Linked DNA regions of Homo sapiens. Each later gene encodes a partner of the first gene's protein in a complex. Each region holds a gene or a part of one and is shown in the gene's direction. Other genes may lie near its edges.

Evidence for each region.
Region 2: the proteins of ETF1 (region 1) and GSPT1 are in contact, whole or in part, in a crystal structure (PDB 3E1Y), measured with the Homo sapiens proteins. Residues at the interface, in NP_004721.1 of Homo sapiens: Phe291, Ile294, Ser295, Gln296, Asp297, Phe303, Gln397, Ser400, Gln401, Lys404, Gly405, Phe406; in NP_001123479.1 of Homo sapiens: Ser404, Ile405, Ile406, Cys407, Pro408, Gly409, Tyr410, Asn411, Arg445, Phe446, Lys448.

Annotation. Positions count from the first base shown.
Region 1 is NC_000005.10:138,540,230-138,547,660, reverse strand, and holds the start of ETF1 (eukaryotic peptide chain release factor subunit 1), read left to right. Parts: upstream 1-4,424; 5' UTR 4,425-4,564; intron 4,565-4,717; exon of another isoform or gene 4,718-4,724; 5' UTR 4,725-4,742; coding exon 4,743-4,828; exon of another isoform or gene 4,829-5,027; intron 5,028-5,949; exon of another isoform or gene 5,950-6,098; coding exon of another isoform or gene 6,099-6,142; intron 6,143-7,431. UniProt on the Homo sapiens protein: Component of the eRF1-eRF3-GTP ternary complex, a ternary complex that mediates translation termination in response to the termination codons. The eRF1-eRF3-GTP complex binds to a stop codon in the ribosomal A-site.
Region 2 is NC_000016.10:11,912,949-11,920,438, reverse strand, and holds the start of GSPT1 (eukaryotic peptide chain release factor GTP-binding subunit ERF3A), read left to right. Parts: upstream 1-4,482; 5' UTR 4,483-4,718; coding exon 4,719-5,070; intron 5,071-5,226; exon of another isoform or gene 5,227-5,419; coding exon of another isoform or gene 5,420-5,450; exon of another isoform or gene 5,451-6,061; coding exon of another isoform or gene 6,062-6,095; intron 6,096-7,490. UniProt on the Homo sapiens protein: GTPase component of the eRF1-eRF3-GTP ternary complex, a ternary complex that mediates translation termination in response to the termination codons UAA, UAG and UGA.

The DNA of each region.
Region 1 (7,431 bases):
AGTCAAAGGCAGCCCTTTAGCAAATCTTACCACAACCATCCCTTCCCTGCCTTCATCTTGGCTACTCTTTTTTTTTTTTTTCCTGAACTCCAGTGATCCTCCTGAGTAGCTAGGGACTACTACTAGGGACGACTTAGGTGTGCACCACCATGCCCAGCTAAATTTTTTTTTAATTTGTAGTATAGATGAGGTCTCACTAGGTTGCTCAGGCTGTACTCCAACTCCTGAGTTCAAGCAATCCTCCTGCTTCGGCCTCCCAAGGTCCTAGGATTACAGGCATCAGTCACTGTGTGTGGTCTATCTTCGTTACTCTTAAACTTATCTTCACATTAGTGACAAATAACCTCATTCTGTAGCTTTTTTTTTTTTTTTTTTTTGAGAAAGGGTCTTGCTCTGTTACCCAGGCTGGAGTGCAGTGATCACAGCTCACTGTAACCTCAAACTCCTGGGCTCCGGTGATCTTCCTGCCTCAGCCTCCTCAGTAGCTGGCACTAGGGGCACATGCTGCTGTGCCTGGCTGATTTTTTTTTCTTGTTTTTGTAGAGACCAGTTCTCTCTAAGCACAAAGACTTATTTGTGCTTTCAACATCAAAACTTATAACAGGCCTGTAATCCCAACACTTTGGGAGGCTGAGGCAGGTGGGTCACGTGAGGTCAGGAGTTCGAGATCAGCCTGGGCAACATGGTGAAACCCCTATCTCTACTAAACATACAAAAATTAGCCAGGCATCATGGCCTGCGCCTGTGGTCCCAGCTACTAGGGAGGCTGAGGCAGGTGGGTCACGTGGGGTCAGGAGTTCGAGATCAGCCTGGGCAACATGGTGAAACCCCCATCTCTACTAAAAATACAAAAATTAGCCAGGCATCATGGCCCACGCCTGTGGTCCCAGCTACTAGGGAGGCTGAGGTGGAAGGATCGCTTAAGTCCTGGGGTCAAGGTTGCAGTGAGTTATTATCGTACCACTGTACTCCAGCCTGGGCAACAGTGAGACCCTGCCTCAAAAAAAAAAAAGAAAATGAAACAAAAACTTACTTGCCTACTCCCACCTAATTAGGTAGGAACATCACCTATATCCCAATATTTAACTTTGTTACATAATGTTTGAGCTGAGGAGGAAGTTCTGAGATCATAAAGAACAATTCCTTTATTTTTCAGAGAATCTGTGTGCCTAGAGAGGTTATATATTTTGTTCTCACCATTTAGCAGTTTGAAAAATCTGTATCACTTTTATATCACAGAACATTCCTCAACAATGAATCGTCATGGTCCCATTTAAAAAGCCTTGATGCAGGCACTACCATCCGTGCTTCATACATCCCAAACCTCTTCACGTAGATAGTTATCCCAGCCTTTGCCTCTAATGCACTGATTTCTAATTCTAAATGCAGAGATGGTGAATTTGCAGCAACTAGGCAAGGAGCTTTTGGGGCTACCTGGGCCTGCAATTGTCTAAGAAATAAGTTTTAAGAATTCAGAGGCTGAAAACAGCAATCCTACTTGGGATGTCGTCATGCTTACTTCAGCCTGAATCACACAGAAGAAAGCCTTCAAGCATGGACCTGAAGCAATGCTGTAAACACAAACATCAAAAGGAAGAGGAGGCCAGGTGTGGTGGCTCACGCATGTAATCCCAGCACTTTGGGAAGCGGAGGCAGGTGGATCACCTGAGGTCAGGAATTCAAGATCAGCCTGGCCAACATGGTGAAACCCTGTCTCTGCTAAAAAAAAAATAAAAAATAAAAAATACAAAAACTGGCCCGGCATGGTGGTTCACGCCTGTAATCCCAGCACTTTGGGAGGCCGAGGCAGGCAGATCACGAGGTCAGGAGATCGAGACCATCCTGGCTAACACGGTGAAACCCCGACTCTAATAAAAATACAAAAAATTAGCTGGGCATGGTGGCACCCGCCTGTAGTCCCAGCTACTCAGGAGGCTGCCGCAGAAGAATCGCTTGAACCCGGGATGTGGAGGTTGCAGTGAGCCAAGATCGTGCCACTGCACTCCAACCTGGGCGACAAAGGGAGACTCCGTCTTTAAAAAAAAAAAAAAAAAGAACAGGAAGGGTAGAGTAGGGCAATCTAATATAGAAAGGAGGAACCAGGGCAAGAGGAATGAAGGAAAACCTTGGACACAGTTGATTCCTAGTCAGTAAGCAGTGTTTATGACTAAGAAGACCCCTCCGTTCACTACTAAACACAGTGAATGACACACACACAGCAGGAGTACAATATTATATAACAAATAAACATATGCCAAAAACTACAAAATGGAACCCAAAGAAGAGGTTCCAACCTGAGATTCATTTCCTGGGGGACAGAAGTATGACCGTGTCCCCACCCTATGAAAATACAGGTAATGGGGTCACTGTATAATACACTGGACTCCAAAAATGGAGTCGGGAAGCCATAAACTAGCTGTGGACTCTGAGCAGATCCCTTTCACTTTTCTTTGCCTCAGTTTCCCCATGTATGAAATGGAGGTCATACCCCCATCTTCAAAGTGTGGACACAGTTTATAACACATGCAAAAAGTATTCAAAAACCATACAAATGAAAGCGCATGACGGACATCCCTACTTACATGTCTCATAAGCAATCTCAAACTTAACAGGCCCAAGATGAAATTCTCAATCATCCCCCAACACCTACTCCTCACCTTTCCCACCTCAGTAAATGTCACCACTTCAGTACTCTGGGAACCATTCTTGGTTTTCCTCAACCAATCCATCATCCAGTCCTATTCACTTTTTTTTTTTCCTCGAGACAAGGTCTCGCTCTGTCACCCAGGCTGGAGTGTAGTGGTGTGATCTCAGCTCACTGCAGCCTCGAATTCCTCGGCTCAAGGGTTTCTCCCACCTCAGCCTCCCAAGCAGCTGGGACTACAGGCGCGGGCCACCACACCAGGCTAATATTTTGTAATTTTGTAGAGACGGAATCTTGCCATGTTGCCCAGGCTGCTCGCAAACTCCTGGGCTCAAGCGATCCTCCCCTTTGGCCTCCCAAAGTGCTGGGATTACAGCCGTGGGCCACTGCACCAGGCCCTTCATTCACTTCTATCTGCACTGTCACCACCCTAATGTAAGCGAAAATCATCTCTCACATGATAATGAAGCAGCCAAAATGGTCTCTGGGCTTCTCCTGTACTCTCTCCAGTCCACACCAGGGCTCTAAACCCTTTAAACTACCCACTGTTCTTGAAAGAAACCAAACTTCTGAATCTGGCTTAAAAGACCCTACATGACCTCTTCCCCTGCTGCTCCCTCAAACCACTCTCCCCGTCCCTGACCTTGTGCCAGCACACTGGCGTTTCTGTAGTTCTCAACTGTATTCTGTTTCCTCCTGACAAACTCTTAATCATCCTTTGGGTCTCATTTCAGAGCTGGGTCCCCGCCATACACTCTCAGAGCACCCTGAAGTACTTAAGCATTTGTGTAATTATTTTATTACAAAAAGTATAAAATCACAAACTTAAAAACCCAATCGACTATAAGCTCCATAAGGGTAAGTACTGTCATCTGTTTGGTTCACCTCTGTATCCCCAGGAAAACAGGGTCCAGCACACGGTCTGGGCTCAATATTTGAACCCAGACGAGGTGAGGGGGGACAAAGTAGCCACCTAAAAATCCTAACTCAAAAAGATAAAGTTCTAACCGTATGTGGATGCCCATTTTGTTTCAACTCTCTCCACCCCCATTCTCAACGGCTCAGGCCAAATCATACATGGGACCAGATACCTCAGGTCTCCAAGCTCAGGCAGCCCCCGCTGTCTTCCACCCCATAAAGTTCTAAGTCCAAAGTGAGCCCGTCCTAGCTCTGGGGCGAGAGAAAACAGGCCTCTTTCGCCCCTGCAGGTGAGGGTCCCGGACCGCCCGGAGGCAGGTTCCTCATCCAGACCTACTGGCCAGGACTCCTCCACACTATTCCGTGCAGCCATGACGCACGCAGACCGCAGCACTTCGTCAGCGAAGAAGCCGCTGAGCGCGAGGCGCTTCTTCGCGGCTTCTCAAGCACCGTTCAAACCGCGCGTCGGGCCCAAGTGCCTAGCTTCGAGTCGCAAAGCCTCAGATGTCCACCCTATTCAAGGAGAATGGACTGAAAAGACGACGACCCCGGTCCTCTCTCTTTAAGAACCACCCCCATTCGAGCCTGACGGGGGCTCTCAGTAAACTCGCGAGAGCCACCGGCTTCCGCCCGCTTCCTCCTCTCGCCTTGCCGGGCCGGAAGAAAGGTGGCACCTCCCACCCCCCAGCCTTACCTCACAAGGCGGCGCGGACCCAGCTGCAGCCAATCGGCGGGCTCATTGTAGGCTGCGGGGCAGAGAGCCAATGAGAAGTCGCGGCGGACGCCCAGCTTCTCCTCACTCGCACCGGCCCCCTCCCTTCCGCCTGCCGCCTTCCACTCCGCCCCTGGCGGAGGAAGTGATGTCACAGGCCCCATGTGAGCGGATTGCAACACATGCAGCTGCCTGGAGAGAGGGAGCCGGTGTCCTACGTCAGAGCCGCCGCCGCCGCGGAGCCGCCGCCGGGGAGGAGCAGCCGCTGCCGCCCAGGACTGGGCCCTTAGGTAAGGCACAGGGAGGGAAAGGCCGGTGACCTTTGTGGCGAGCTGCACCGGACGGGAGGAGAGGGCCTCTGGGGGATGGCGAGGAAGGGGGCCGCTCTGCCCCAGCGGCGGCGCTAACTCTGTGGTCTTGGTGTCTCCGGGCCCCGCCGGGCCGCTCTAGGGAGGAGGAGGCGAGAAGATGGCGGACGACCCCAGTGCTGCCGACAGGAACGTGGAGATCTGGAAGATCAAGAAGCTCATTAAGAGCTTGGAGGCGGCCCGCGGGTGAGCGCCGCGTCCGGCACCCTCCGTGCCCTCTTGGTTCCCGGACCCCTCAGGATGGACGCCCCCGCGCCGCATGGCCGGATGAGGAGAACCAGGCACTAGCCAACTCCCGCCTTCTGGATCTCTGGGTAGTAGCCCCTGACCCAGGGGCGAGGGTCGGCGCGGTTGGCCCGAGAAGGGGTCCTTTCCCCGCATGGGGGTAAGGGGCCCGCGCTCCCCGGTTTAGATCACTCGGCCCCCCTCGTGGTAGGCCACCGCTACTTTTGCACCTCTCCCGGGCCCTTAAGTCCAGGTCCTCCCTCTTCGGGCTCCAGGTGCTGCCACCCGACTCGGGTGCTATTGTGGCAAAGTGTTCGGCCTTCCTTTCCCAGGGCCCTTCCCTGATTTCCTCTTCTCCCTTCATTTCTCAGCCAGGCCTCATTAAAATGGCCTCTCCCTTCTGGGCTTCTGAGACCCGGGTGGGTGAAGTTTGGATGGGACGGGAAGCAGAGGTGGCCAGGGACAGCTTCTTTCTGATTCCTGATTTCTCTGGGTCTTCCACCTGTCCCAAGATGACTTCTCCCAAGTCCTCTAATTACCCCGGAGCTTCCTGGTTTTAGCTGTTCCAGGACCCACCTATAAACTGAAAATGCCAACGTACGCGCGATGTGAGGGGTGCTGGGTAGGTTTTGGTTAATGAATCTGCATGTGTATGTCCAGGAGAAATACGGGTTAGGGGGCCGTTTGATAGGAATCATAACTACAGAGTCCCTGCTGGCATTTCTCTGAAACTTGTGGGGATATCGCTGTAGAGAGGCGCCTGATGTGCTTGATGCTTGTTGAGTGAGATTCATAATTGAATTAAATGGGCTTTGAGTCTTGTACATTTTGATAAGAAACTGTAGGTGTGTCCATTGGGGGGAGAGTAGGCTAGATTAAAATTAGCTGTGTGTGTGTGTTTTCTTTTTTTTTTAACGTTGTTCGTTTGAGGAAGGTGTGCCAGGGGTATTCCTGTTTCTTTTATTACTTTATTTTGTTCCTTTCCCAGTCATAGAAACTTTTTACTTACAGGAAGTGCCCCCCCCCCCAAAAAAAAGTGTTTGGAACATTATTACATACTTGTATGTCTGAGCATTCTTAGAATAGTAGAATGGCCTGCCTCAGGCCATGTGAAAAGTTGATTTCAGCACAAGAATTTGACATTCTGGTTTCCAGCCCAGGATTGTCATTTATGGGTAGATTTGCAATTTTAGAATGACAGCCCCTCCAAGCTCTTCATTATTACTGTTATATGAAACAGGATGTGCTTAATTGTACTGAAGGCCCAATTCACAGGTTGGTTTTACTAGTGTTTTGTTCTTAATAAATTAGGGACAGTTCTGTTTGGAATGAGGCTTCTAAAAGTTTGGCCCCATTCAGTGACGGGCTTGTGCTCACTCCTTCGGTTTACTGGAGAAACGTTAGTTTAATATGAATCGAAGACAGCGGCTTGTTAGTCCTTAGGTTTTTCTTTGAATTCAATAGAATATCCAGACCTTCTTAATGATCTTACAGGAACTTGTGCCGTATGATAGAGTGACCAGTTATTCCCAAAATGTGAGAATACTGTACAGAAAGGGTAACATAGGTCACGACCCATTATGTTGCACTACCAAGAATTAGCCAGGTTCTTTTGTTTCAGTAGGATCTTGTTTTGTTACTTGAAGCCTTCAATCCAGTATTGCATTTTATAGATTGCTGTTGTTGCAGTATTGTATATAGGTGGATGTGACCTCTGGATTTGTTCTTACTGCTTTCAGTAGCAGGCAGGTTTACACATTTTAATTTGCATACGTTATATTCTCTGAAACAGTCCAAAAAATTAAATCATGACTATAATTTGCCTGTTTGAATGAAGTAACATTGAAGATGACATTGCTTAATAAGTAACAGCATTCCTTTCTACTGCTTAATGAAGGAAACTCATTCTTAAATTTGTTCTACCCATGTTACCTAGCCACTAGAAACTTTTAAGCGCCTCTTTAAGGCTTTTGAAGGCTTTACCTCTTTGTTTAGCAAAGTTCAGTAAAGTTTAAAGCATGCTAAAAATGAAGTTATAAGACACAACTTGTATTTCAAGTTGTTGAGTTTGGATATTTCAGACATGATTAAGCTGTCTAAAATAGCTGGAGGACCTTCCGCTACACATTGTGGTTAATAATCATGTCCTACTTTGCTTTTAATCAGGATTTGGTTGCATCTTGATCCCATGGAAATTTAAAATCTTGGCCATCTCTGAGTATTGGTAAGGGAGTCAGAAGATTCCCCAGTATATACCAGTTTTTGGAGGTGGGAATATTTTCATTGCCAACTTGTGTTAAAGTCAGACTCTAGATTTTCATAGATAGGGTACAGTGGAAAATGTTATTCCTACTTTACCTAGTGATAAAATATCTTTAGAAGAATTGTAATGGGCTTTAAAGACTTAAGTGGATGGCAAAATGAATCTGTATTTGCTGATGTTTTGGGGATACTCTGGTTTTCAGGAGGAAACTGAGGTTTTCAGGCATGGTTATTAGGACAAGGTAGTGAGACTTAGTGGTTGAGTAACAGTATTGTTTTGGAAATGAAAAAGCCCTTTCCTC
Region 2 (7,490 bases), on another chromosome or scaffold:
AAATTCCCTGAACCCATGGAGGGGGTCATGGGAACCCCCAATTCATAGCCAGTTGGTCAGAAGCACAGGTCACAATGTGGAACCTGTTATTGGCATTGGAAGTGGGGGCAGTCTTGTGGGACTGATCCCTTAACTTGTGGGATCTGTCCTAACTCTGGTTAATGTCAGAATTGAGTGAAATGATTGCTTATCCTGTTGGTGTCTGTTGAAGAATTGGTTGGTGGTGGGTAGAAACTCCCTCACTTACTGGTGGAGTACAACTGGCCCTTAAACAATGTGAGCCTGAACTGCGAGGGTCCCACTTACACATGGATTTTTTTTTTCAATCAAATGAGGATCAAAAAGACGGGATTCTCAGGATGCAGGAACTCAAGTGTAGGGAGGGCTGACCTTTCATACACACAGTATAGATTGTGGGATTTTAGTATGGTTGGATTTTTGTATCTGAAGGGCTCCTGGAACTAATCCCCTTCCTCTACCCAGAGAGGACTGTACTCTGTGTTGAGCGGTGACTTGTGTGTGAGAGTAGGAAAAACTCTGATTTTTCCTAAGTTTTCTAAATTATTAGTCCTGGGGTGGGGTGTGGTGGCTCATGCCTGTAATCCTAGCACGTTGGGAGGCTGAGGCAGGAGGATCACTTGAGGTCAGTAGTTCCAGATCAGCCTGGGCAATATGGTGAAACCCTGTCTCTACTAAAAATAGAAAAATTACCAGGGGGTTGGGGAGGGGGGGTGGCGGGCACCTATAATCCCAGCTACTCAGGAGGCTGAGGCAGGAGAATTGCTTGAACTTGGGAGGTAGAGGTTGCAGTGCGTGAAGATTGCTCCACTGCACTCCAGCCTGGGCAACAGAGCAAGACTCCATCTCAAAAAATAAAATTAAATTAAATTAAAATAGCTAAGTGCGGTGGCTCACATCTGTAATCCTAGCACTTTAGGAGCCCAAGGCAGGCAGATCACTTGAGATCAGGAGTTTGAAACCAGCCTGGCCAACAAGGTGAAACCCTGTCTCTACTAAAAAAAAATACAGGCCAGGCGTGGTGGCTCACGCCTGTAATCCCAACAGTTTGGGAGGCCAAGGAGGGCAGATCACAAGGTCAAGAAATTGAGACCATCCTGGCCAACATGGTGAAACCCCGTCTCTGTTAAAAATACAAAAATTAGCTGGGCGTGGTGGTGCACACCTGTAATCCCAGCTACTCAGGAGGCTGAGGTGGGAGAATCGCTTGAACCTGGGAGGTGGAAGTTGCAGTGAGCTGAGATCATACCACTGCACTCTAGCCTGGGCGACAGAGCGAGACTCTGTCTCAAGAGTCTCAAGTTATTTAAAAAATAAATAAATAAATAAAATTATTAGCCCTATGTGTCAGCAGTCTTAAATGAGTATCAAAGGACAGTATCATCCCAGCTAAATTGATTAAGCACCTTTTATACACCGGGCATTACACTAGGCAGTGGAAATGTAAAGAAGATTAAGGTAAGACCCTGCCCTCAAGTCGCACAACTTACACACAACTTAGCACAACTAACAAGAAAGACTTTTCCCTTTTCCGCTGGAGCTCTGTTTGGCAGGTCAAAGCTTTGGAAAACCAATGGAGTGGATTTTTTCCTGAATATCCATAATTATCCTATTCAGAGACAAGGAAATTAATGACATCAACTGCTTTTCTAAGCAGCAGTCTGAGCAGTTTCTGCCTTTGTCCCTAGAAAAAGTACCAGGCAGAAGGAAACTCTGCTAATTCAATTAGATGTGAAGAACTAACCTATGAGAAAGTGATCATTCAGTGCTGTAGGAGTGCTACATGGAGGAGAGTAGTATTCAAAGACAAAATGCTTAGAGAAGGATGTGTAGTTCATTATTTGAGTCAGCTGATTGTGTTGACATTTTCTTAGGGGTGGGTGGGTGGGGAGTGAAAATCTGGAAAGAGAAGGCATTTCATTTAGAACACATTGTATTTTTTCTTGTGAATATAAGATGAAAATCTTTTATTCAATAGCAATACAGGTCTCGCATAAATGAAGTTCTAATTTTCATAACAGTTGTTAAGTTCTCTGTAAATCTGACAGTCACTTAATACCAACTTTAAAATGGACATTGTTAAGTATGATTCAGTGAGGTCTTCAGGTATAATAATAGGCTATAACCAAAACTTCCTATTAAGCAGAGGCAAACTCTGCCGGGTGTGGTGGCTCACACCGATAAGCCCAGCACTTTGGGAAGCTGAGGCAGGTGGATCGCTTTTTTTGTTTGTTTTTTGAGACAGAGTCTCGCTTTGTCGCTCAAGCTGGAGTGCAGTGGCGCGATCTCGGCTCACTGCAGGCTCCGCCTCCTGGTTTCACGCCATTCTCCTGCCTCAGCCTCCTGAGTAGCTGGCAATACAGACGCCCGCACACCACGCCCGGCTAATTTTTTGTATTTTCAGTAGAGACAGGGTTTCACCGTGTTAGCCAGGATGGTCTCAATCTCCTGATCTCGTGATCCGCCCACCTTGGCCTCCCAAAGTGCTGGGATTACAGGCGTGAGCCACCGCGCCCGGCCTAACTTGTATTTTTAGTAGAGACGGGGGTTCCACCACGTTGGCCAGGCTGGTCTCGAACTCCTGACCTCACGTGATCCATCTGCCTCGGCCTCCCAAATTGCTGAGATTACAGGTGTGAGCCACTGCGCCTGGCCGGTATGTGTTTTTTTAATCCCTAAAGCTTGGTAGTTTAATATTAAATTCAAATTACTGTAGCCTAGGACTCTTTTGAAAAATACTTGACAGCTTCGTTTTTGACCTATCTCATTAGGCTGAGTTCTCTTTTATCTTTACAATACAGATGTTTAAAATTAAAATACAGATCGGCCGGGCGCGGTGGCTCACGCCTGTAATCCCAGCACTTTGGGAGGCCGAGACGAGCGGATCACGAGGTCAGGAGATCCAGACCATCCTGTCTAACACGGTGTAAACCTCGTCTCTAATAACAATACAAAAAAAATTAGCCGGGCGTGATGGCGGGCGCCTCTAGTCCCAGCTACTCCGGAGACTGAGGCAGGAGAATGTTGTGAACCCGGGAGGCGGGCTTGCAGCGAGCCGACATCGCGCCACTGCACTCCAGCCTGGGCTACAGAGCAAGACTCCGTCTCAAAAAAAAGAAAAAAGAAAATTAAAATACAGATCTAGATCTGGATTTTGTTAGGTTTTTTTTTTTTTTAACAACCTAAGGTTGTTCAGAAACATCTATTCTATGTATGTGCTTCTTTAGTCTGTAATTTCTAGGCAGATTAGTTGCACCCTGTCTAGACTCCTTTCAGAAAAATACTAACAATATGTTTTTCTCTGTCTTGGGCTCCACATGGGTGAATTACAGGAAAGCTTAACAGGTACTCAGAGCAACATTTTTTCCTACTTCATGAAGGGCCTAAATGCGAACTCTTAAGTATTTCTCGTTTGCTTTTGTTCTTTTCCCAGGTTTACCTAATCTGTAAGTGTAAGATGCAGTCGATGAAAAGTACTATGGGAATTCTTGAGCAAATCAGACCATTCAAAAGGAAACCACTTCACGTAATGGTGCATAAGGAAGCTAGACTCACCAAAATAACCCTGTTAGGTAAGCCGGATACACCATGGAATACGGCAATCCTCTGTTTAATTTGCAAACCCTTTGGCGGGGAGGAGGAAAGGATGGAAAAATTTGGGTGAAGGCTTTATATGACTAGTCAAACAAACGGTGAGTCATTGAAATTTTCCAGTTAACAATCCCTTCTGCCTGGGCAGAGCCTGGGCCCCAGCGCTTTATGAGCCACACTGCAGTTTTAAGCCGGAATATCTCACGGTTTTATTGTTTCTTCCACGAAATGATTACATAAAATGAAATCAGCTTTGCAATCTGCACCGGCTTTGAAATGAAGGGCAAAATCTGGCTGGGGGTGAGGAGAAAGAAGGTGGAGAGAGAATAAGGTACGGAGACTGTGAGGCAGAGAACGCAGGAAAGGTGGTGAAAAGAGAGTACAAGAATTTTCGGGAGCTGAGTGTATTTTTCTTCCCCATGTTATAGATGCTGTCCGTTTTCCCCCAGCCTGTGTCCAGCAGGCCAGAGTGGACCCCTCCTATGGGCTAAAATACTCTCGGTCTTCGGCCCAGCACAGAGCTGCACCAACCAGGGCCTGCCGCTGCCCCCCCACCAGGTGACAGGTGGGGCCGCCGAGCGGCCACCAGACCTCCGCCTCCTCGCGTTGCCTGCCGGGAGCCGGAGCCGCTTCCGGTTGCGCCCTGTCCCTGAACTTCGACTCCCGTCGGCCCCCGGGAAAACCGCAGCGGGGTAGCGCGGGCGCTGCCGGAACTTGTAGTTCCACCTCCCGCCGCGCTAAATAGCCGGAAACGGGGGCGGCCAGAACAGAGAACTACCGAGGCGAAGGTACGGGTGGCGGCGAGGGGTCAATCCGCGCCGGGGGTGGGGTTGGCTGTGAGGCCGTCGGAGGTGGTTGGGTGGGAGGAGATCCGCTCACACACACGAGGAGGAGGGTTGAGCTGCCGCCGCCGCCGCCTCTGTCGTCGTCGCGAGTGTGGAGTCGGGACTGGAGCTGCTGCCGCGGCGACGCCGGGGATCTTTGTCGCTAGCTCCCGGCCCTTCTGCCCCGCCGCCTTCCCTCAGTCAGCGTTGCCCACTCCTCTCCGGCCGGGCGCCCCTGCCTCCATTTCCCGCTCTCTGTCCACCACACACACGGCCCCCCCGATCATGGATCCGGGCAGTGGCGGCGGCGGCGGCGGCGGCGGCGGCGGCGGGAGCAGCAGCGGCAGCAGCAGCAGCGACTCGGCGCCTGACTGCTGGGACCAGGCGGACATGGAAGCCCCCGGGCCGGGCCCTTGCGGCGGCGGCGGCTCCCTGGCGGCGGCGGCCGAGGCCCAGCGGGAGAACCTCAGCGCGGCCTTCAGCCGGCAACTCAACGTCAACGCCAAGCCCTTCGTGCCCAACGTCCACGCCGCCGAGTTCGTGCCGTCCTTCCTGCGGGGCCCGGCAGCGCCGCCACCCCCAGTTGGCGGCGCCGCCAATAACCACGGAGCCGGCAGCGGCGCGGGAGGCCGTGCGGGTAAAGGCCCGGGACGCGGGAGGAAGTCCGGCCGGGCGCCGGAGCCCACATGGCGTAGGGGTGCGGTCCGGGGGCGCGCGGCCCTGGGGCCCGGTCGGCACGTGGGGCGCTGACAGTGGCGCCGTCTGCCTGGGTGGGGCGCCCCGAGCCCGGGAGCCGGCCTTCGCGGGGCGGCCCGCGGCGGTGGCCGGGCGGGGAGCGGACAGCGGGCAGCGCGCCCAAAGACCCGGACCCGAGTGCCGCCCCTCCGCGCCCCTGCCCTGCTCTGGAGTCCGCAGTTACCCACTTGAGATGGGAACCGTATGGAACGGAGTGGGGGCCGCGGCGGATCCCTGCCACGAGGCGCAGAATGAGGACAGATGGAGCCAGGAGTCATTTGGGTGGGCGTTTAGAGATCCCAGGAGTTGGGGAGGACGAATGGCCGAGTTTTCCTTTCACCTTAGGCCCAGCCGAGAGAGCGTCTTCTGCTGCGTTTTCTACTATTGAAACTGTAATTACGGTTTAAACTGTCCGTGGCCCCCAACCGTCCTGAAGGAATCCCAAGATGCATTGCAGCCTTGTGATCGGGCAGAAACTTGGCTATCAATACCAAGATCTGTTTTACCCTTAGCATTGTGTACGCTTCTAAAGTTTACAAAGTGCCACAAAGTTAGGATTCCTCACTTAATGTGTGATAGGAGACTATATTGATTTGTGTCTTTTTAAAGTGAAGCTTACACTTTTATCCTTTGTCAGCGACACGTTTAGAGAATTTTCATTGCTGTAAAATCGTTGACCTTATTCAGATTGCTTGGAATAACTCACTGTGTTCGTGCATCAGTAGTTCAGTCTATTTCTTCAGACACTTGAGCATTTGTTATAATTTAATAGTTCTCACGTGTCTTTCTGACCGTAGCTAGTAGACATACATTTTCTAATCCATAAAATTTCGAGTTAACTTTGGTTTTTAAACATCTTCCCGTACTTAGGGGTTGCTTAAGTCGTAGGTAGCATGCTTGCAGGTGCTGACGTTGTAGGAATATCCGGTGAGTGAACTTATGTATTCTCATAATGGTGCTTATTTTGTGGTAGGTAGCTTGCTTTCAGGTACTGATTTTGTGGGAATGTCAAATGAGTGAACTTAAGTATTCTCTTCCTAATGGTGCTTATTTTAGGAACTATCAGTGTTTCCTTAAAGAGAAAATGAAAAAGGAAGGAAAAGGCTGAACGTCCTTTCATCATTTAGCCAGGACGTTAGTGGGGTGGGTCATGACATCCAGCGCATTTTAAGTGAGAACATATTGTTGATTTCTCTCTTTAAAGTTCTGTATTGTGGTGGTTCTTAGATAAGTGGACATTATAAAAGTGCTCCAGGAGTTTGGTTTCTACAGAAACTTTTGTCACCGTTTGCTCTTTCGTGGTAAAGGGATAGTGTCTGGAGAAACACTCTGATGACGTATGTACGTCAGCACGGTTGATTTGGTGGTTTTGTTGACAGTGGCATTTATTTGTGTGGGTGGTTGATGTTTTCTTTTGAGGAGATCGAGCACTTTCAGGGTGGTACGGCTCTAGACAATGTTTTCCTCTTGAATAAGGAAGCTTAGCTTGTAATTCTTGACTTACATCAAGCCATTTTGACTGCCTAACCTAGTTCACTTCTCAGCTCCTAAAAGTGCCCATTCCCTACCTTACTTTGCAGATTCCGTTTATCCAGCCATTTTCTTTCTTGGCTCTTCCTCCTTTCTGTGGAGCCACCAGCACCACTCTGACTAGACTCAGGACTCCATTTACAGCCTGTCCAGCGAGTCATCCGGGGATAACCAACCTTGGTCTAGAATGGTCACTGTTGGTGACTAGGTATTACCTCTTATGCGGGCTTTCTCTCTTCCTGATAGTTGCTAATTTGTAGTTACACCTAATCTTTTTCTCTTTGACAGTGCTAGAAATTGGAGATGCGAAAACCTGTAGGGAAGTAGCTGTCAGTAAGAGAATCCGTACAGCATGGTCAACTTTCTTGTTTTTAATCAAAAAACTATTTTGGTGTTACCGACTTTACCAATTGCTTGTACCAAAATGCCAGTTCATGTTTTTAAAAAATTATCCTATGTAGGATGTCTATTTGGAAAAGAACTGATTTTCTAAGTTGAGGTCCAGGGTTATATTGAGACTGTTGGATTGCATGTTCCAGACTATTAAGTCCATAAAAAGCCAGCATCGGAGAACAATCAGTGCTTATAAAAAGCAGGGGGATAAATAGGAAATAACACCTGGATTGGAACTTACAAAGGGGGAACCAAAAAGTTTGCAAGGTTTTTTTGATAGCGAGGAAGTGGACAATAGGGCTAGCATGTTCTGTTCTTTAGTTAAGCCATAGCCGAAATTTGTGCTGGGTGTGTTTTTAAACTGCATGCCGGGAAAGCTGTTGAAGGAGCCTGGAGAGT